Linked DNA regions of Homo sapiens: region 1 is linked to region 2. The links come from fine-mapping of genetic effects on plasma protein levels. A gene starts in region 2. The other region holds a variant in brackets. All regions are shown on one strand. Distances are from middle to middle. Region 1 has its middle 24 kb from the start of SPESP1. Region 2 holds the start of SPESP1 (sperm equatorial segment protein 1).

The links. PIP is the posterior inclusion probability: the model's chance that the variant is causal. Protein levels are from antibody-based Olink assays in UK Biobank. Linkage for the fine-mapping came from a reference panel and not from the study's own genotypes, which makes the PIPs less certain.
Region 1: its variant is fine-mapped to the plasma level of the SPESP1 protein (UK Biobank, PIP 0.97).

The regions. Positions count from the first base shown.
Region 1 is chr15:68,904,821-68,907,734 of GRCh38, reverse strand. No RefSeq gene overlaps it. Among named protein-coding and RNA genes, the nearest start is that of SPESP1, 24 kb to the left of the region's middle. The variant A/G (reference allele first, on the strand shown) is at 1,689.
Region 2 is chr15:68,928,913-68,931,826 of GRCh38, reverse strand. SPESP1 (sperm equatorial segment protein 1) reads right to left here and starts at 1,302. Exons shown (of 2, transcript NM_145658.4): 1 at 1,110-1,302. The coding sequence starts at 1,173. It overlaps SPESP1-NOX5 (SPESP1-NOX5 readthrough), which reads right to left and starts at 1,302. Exons shown (of 17, transcript NR_033672.2): 1 at 1,110-1,302.

The DNA.
Region 1 (2,914 bases), 24 kb after region 2:
CTTTAAAAAGCTGGGACCAAATTAGTTTCTTATCTTGCAGAAATACCAGGAGTTGGTGTTTGCAGAGAATGTTTATTCTCTGCAGAATTCTCCACTCAGCAACCATCATACCTCATCATACAACACCACTTGTTTATGATTAGCTTCCATATGATCACAGAATAGCCTCACATTTAACACATAATCCTTTATGTAACTCACAATTTTAACTATGCTGCTAAGACACTATTGGTTCAGCTGGTTTTTTTGTTTGTTTGTTTGATAGCAAGACTTTCTCAATGAAGGAACAGCATGTTGGTTTATATTCTGGCCCAGCTCTTTTCTCTGGATTAACTACTCCAGAATGCTTACCTGTCATTACATCTGTGCATCAAAAATACTTCTACCCCTAATCTCCAAACCACATAGACAGTGTAATCTATCATCATTTTATACAGTTCTGAGTTCTGTTTATGGTAATGAAGTTGGAAAAAAAAATTCTACTTTCATATTACCATCATGCTCAAATAACACATATACTAAAAGAATTGCTTTGTTAGCGTTACCTGTGCATCAGGTTTCATTAAAAAATAGTTTGCTGGCTTTATTTGTACCATAAATTGGTCTTCCACATAATTAGATAGTTTTAAAATACATTAATCTATAGTTTCATTGGAAAACAGTCTTCACAGTATCTTCTTTGCTCAAGATTCCCCCATCATTTCCAAGCAAACATTTTTTATGAAGTTTTTTGCTAATGTCACCACAATTTAATTTTTTGTCCTAGTCATGCAAAGTGCTACTTGATAAGAAGCCTGAAAAGTACTACTCACTCTTCATATATGAAATATTGAACATCTTCTTCCATTAACTTTTTAATTCAATATTCCTTCTTTCAAACAATTCTTTTCATTGTGAATGTGTGTCTTTATGAGTTGCGTATGCATGTTGCCTATAGTTTGACGGTGAATTGCTTACATTAGCCAGTATATCTCTGCAAATAACACATTCAAATTTTAGTGCTTCTCAATTAATTAGAGCAGTGCAACTGAACTCAGTATGTAAAGGATTATACTTCTGAGTCAATCTAGCAGAAACTCTTTTGGTTGTCATGTCTTCAAAATTACTTTCATCGTTATTATTTGATTTACTACTCGTGCTACATTTAGAAAAGGTATGTATTTTCTAGATTTTTAAAAATTCCAATGAAAGTTAATTCTAGTAAATTATGGCTAAAAAGAAATGACACAAATTTTACTGCCCTAAATTGACTAATAATGTTATATTATAAATTAAATAGTAGACTTGATTAAAAATTAGGCTGATTATAAAAACAAGTTATCAAAATGCTTACTTTTTTCAGATTTTTATGTATTTTTGCATCACAGTTAACCACCTAACCTTAAACTATCACACAATGCAATTTGGTCCTACTGTTCATGAAAACATGAACCTTGCCCATTCTGAGTTGAAAAGATATAAGAAGAGTCTAATTATGTCTAAAGGAGTCAAGCAGGCCCAGGGAGTGGAGGGAGATGGGGACAGCGGGAAGACAGCTCCAGCTTCTCCTTGAGTGGCTGACCTGAGGCTGGAGAACTCTCTGAATGTTGGAAATTGGGCCACTCCCAACACAGAACCTGTGAATAGCATGGCTTTCCCAGAAGCCTGGATGAAATGTCCACTGATTTAATAACAAAATTGTTTTTGCA[A/G]AAGTAAGGACTGCCACTTTAAAGAAACACACTGATTAAATAAAAATGAATACATCAAATTTCAGAAATGCTAATACCTGAAAAGCCATACTTCTTAGAATCTAGGAAATGCCATGAGGATATTTTACTAAGTCTGTGCCTGCTTTTTCTAAGTGTGTGTGTGTATGTGTGTGTGTAAGAGGCTGTAGCTTCTCTCATTGGCAGGGCTGTTGTGCAAAAAGTGCTCACTGCTAAAGACCTGGAATACAGGCATCAAGGAAGTGGAGGAGTGGGGTCTCCTGAGCCATGGATGCTAACATTCCTTTCACATGCCCAGATTTTACTTTCCCATCTGTGACACAATGTCATAAACAGTATGTGCTGCCTAGCATTTTTTTTCAAGTCTTCTACTGACCTAGAACAAAGCAAAAATATGTTGATGCACTTGGGAAGCTATAACTCCATTGGTAAGGGAAAAGTCTTTGAAGTTCTACATGTGTGTTTTAAGACTAAAGTTTGCCCTATAAGACCCCACATCCTCTGGGGACAACAGTGGCTTTCTGGGTTGCTGTGAATTAAGGTATCTGGGTACTTCCCAAAATCTGGGTACTTCTCTTTTCTCACCACACAGTTAGCTGGTTAATTGTTTATTCCATTAGAAATGAACTGGAGTTGGACCCTGAGTACATACTTGTGGCATTTTAGTTATTTGTTCCTCAAGGGTATCCAGCTTCCTCTTTTTTCAAAGGGCTCTTGGTCTGTGAACCGGGTCAGAATTAGACAAAAGGAGGCTTTAGTCCTTGTTTGTAATGTTGTTATACAAATCAAGGAGAGCCTCAAGAGGCTAACCATTTTTGATCCATCAGTGTGGTTATAGATAACGAAGGTACATCCAAAATATGGAAAATTAGTTTAAAAGAAGTACGTATTCCGGCCGGGTGTGGTGGCTCACACCTGTAATCTCAGCACTTTGGGAGGCCGAAGCAGGCGGATCACTTGAGGTCAGGAATTCAAGACCAGCCTGGCCAACATGGTGAAACCCTGTTCTACCGAAAATACAAAAATTAGCTGGGCCTGGTGGCGGGCACTTGTAGTCCCAGCTACTTGAGAGGCTGAGGCATGAGAATTGCTTGAACCCAGGTGGCGGAGGTTGCAGTGAGCTATTGAGATCACGCCACTGCAGTCCAGCCTGGGCGACAGAGTGAGACTCAGTCTCAAAAAAAAAAACATGTATGGAGACATCAATA
Region 2 (2,914 bases):
TGCCACAATGAACTACAGTTAGACTAAATGGGGAAGCCTCACCTACCTGACTTAAATACTAAGTGCCTTAAGGTGCCCACATGATATTGTTAATATAGTAAAGTCTTAGCACCCCTGAATTTGACCTTATTGGTTTTCAGCTTTCGGGGAGGGACAAAAATTGCTCCTTGGCAGGTCTTAAGTTATAATCCTGCTTAACTAAGGCTTTGAATGCCGTGTGCGCAAGCATGCTCTCTGGGAGCGCATCCTCAGGTGAGTGTCCCAGACCGCGACCCACAATCCACATGCTCTCCAAATTTTACCGTACGGGTCAACCTTTTTTTCTGTACAGGGCCAGAGAGTAAATACTTCAGTCTTTGCAGACCAGACTGTGTGGCAACCACTTAACCCCGTTGTTCTAACGTGGGAAAGCAGCCATGGGCAATACGTAAAGGAATGAGCGTGGTGGTGTGCCAGTAAAACTTTATTCACGAACAATGAAATGTGAGCGTCATGCTTTTCCACAAGTCATGAAAGAGTACATTTCATATTTACTTTGAAAATGCAAAAATAGAACATCACACACCAGGGCCTGCCGTGGGGTGGGGGGAGGGGGGAGGGATAGCATTAGGAGATATACCTAATGTAAATGACAAGTTATGGGTGCAGCACACCAATATGGCACATGGATACATATGTAACAAACCTGCACGCTGTGCACATGTACCCTAGAACTTAAAGTATAATAATTAAAAAAAAAGGAAGAAAATGTAAAAATCATTCCTAGCTGGCCAGCAGCTGTCACACGACCCCTGCACGGTCACACGCCCAATGGCTGGGGAAGGATCGGGTGGGCAGAGGAAGGCCTCCGGTGAGGTGAGGGGGTTCCACCCGCGCCCACGGCCCGCAGGCGCTTCCCGTCTCATCTGGGCCGCGCCGCCTCAGTTGCTGCGTTCCCTGACCAGGAGAGGAGAGGGACACCCCTCGGCGTCGAGGCCAGGACCCCGGACAGTGGGGGAGGGAGGCATGTAGGACCAGGGAGAAGGAAGGGCCAGGCTTCGAGGTCGCGGAGCTCGGGAAGTTCCCCCAGGGTGTCCCCGGTCCGCTGCCTCCTCAGGCCCGTCACTCACTCGGATAAGCCGGCACAGACGAAGGCCATAGCAAAAGCGCAACTAGAAGGACTAAGGGCTTCATAGGCGTCGTCCGTAGCACTCTGCCATGCGACCGGAACGTCCTGGGGCCACCAGGCTGGGAACCTCAAGGCCGAAAGGGAAGGTGTCAGCGGAGTACCGTCCTGCCTCAGGCCCTGGGACACCCAGCAACGGTTGTCCCCAGCGCGCAAGCGCAGCGGCATGGGGGAGGGGAGAGCGAGCGGCCAAGGCCCGCCCCTCCTGGGACCGCGTGCAGGGGGCGGGGGATCGCGCGCGCCCCGCCCCGCCCCTTCCTAGTGCGCATGCTCGCTCCGCCTTCGTAGGTCCGCGCCTGGTGTGGGCTGGGAACGCCTCGACGCCCGGCTACTGCGTGCGGGGTGCTGCCTCGGGGCGTGCGGGGCTCGGCCCATCCTGCGCGGTAGGGATACCGCCGTGGTTTAAACGCGGTCCCTGTGAGGAAGGAACTGTAATGGGAGAGGCAGATAACCTGGCAATTACCACAGCGTGAAAGGGGGCTGTAGTGGGGGAAGCGCTAGGTACTGTTGTGCACAGTGGAAACCCACCCCCGGAAGCGGGTGGGGAGCTTGGCTAAGTGGAGGACAGCTTGGAGCACCCCAAGAACTGAGCATAGTTCCGGCGAGTTGCATTGTGGGGCTTGGGAGGGCAGTTGTTGGAGGACAGGGAGGAGAGGTAGGCAAGGGCATTAAAAACGCCCTAAGGGGCTTGGGTGTTTTTGTTTTTCAAAAGATCACATTCCATTTCTTTGACCTTCTTAAAAAGATAGGGGTAGGGATGAGGGAGAGTACGACTATGAAAGGATAGCATGAGGTTGTTTTGGGGACTAATAGATGGCAGTGGCCACAAGAATCTATACATGTGTTAAAATTCACAGAAGGCCGGGCACGGTGGCTCACTCCTGTAATCCCAGCACTTTGGGAGGCCGAGGTGGGCGGACCACCTGAGGTCAGGAGTTCGAGACCAGCCTGACCAACATAGTGAAACTTCGTGGCTACTAAAAATACAAAATTAGCCAGGCGTGGGTGGTGGCACACGCCTGTAGTCCCAGCTACTTGGGAGACTGAGGCAGGAGAATCACTTGAACCCGGGAAGCAGAGGTTGCAGTGAGCCGAGATCGTGCCACTGCACTCCAGCCTGGGCGACAGAGCAAGACTCCACCTCAAAAAAATAAATAAAAATAAAAATTCGCAGAACTGCACATCCCAAAGAATCTGTTTTTCTGTATGGTTATTTTTAAAAATTCACGTACACTCATCTCTGCCTCAGGAAGCAAGGGGCTTGGATTTTAGTCTGAGGCACCAGTACTAGAGTACTGCTAGGTTTTGAGCTGGGAACGGTTGTGATTAGATTTGTATTCCAGAAAACTCACTCTTCCTGTAGCATGAAGAATGGACTGGAGGGAAGCAAGACTAGAGGCGCCGGCGGAAACTGAGACTGCGCACGGCGCTTGCGGGCCAGCCCGAGTTCCGGGTGGGCGTGGGCTCGGCGGGCTCGGTGGGCCCGGCACTCAGCGCGGCCGGCCGTCCCCGCTGGCCACGGGCAGTTGGGGGGAGCTTAGCACCTGGGCCAGGAGCTGCTGTGCTCGATTTCTCGCCAGGCCTTAGCTGCCTCCCCGCAGGGCAGGGCTCGGGACCTGCAGCCTGCCATGCCTGAGCCTCCCTGAGGAGCGCCGCTCCCTGCTCCACGGCGCCCAGTCCCATCGACCGCCCAAGGGCTGAGGAGTGCGGGCGCAGGGCCGGGGACTGGCAGGCAGCTCCACCTGCGCC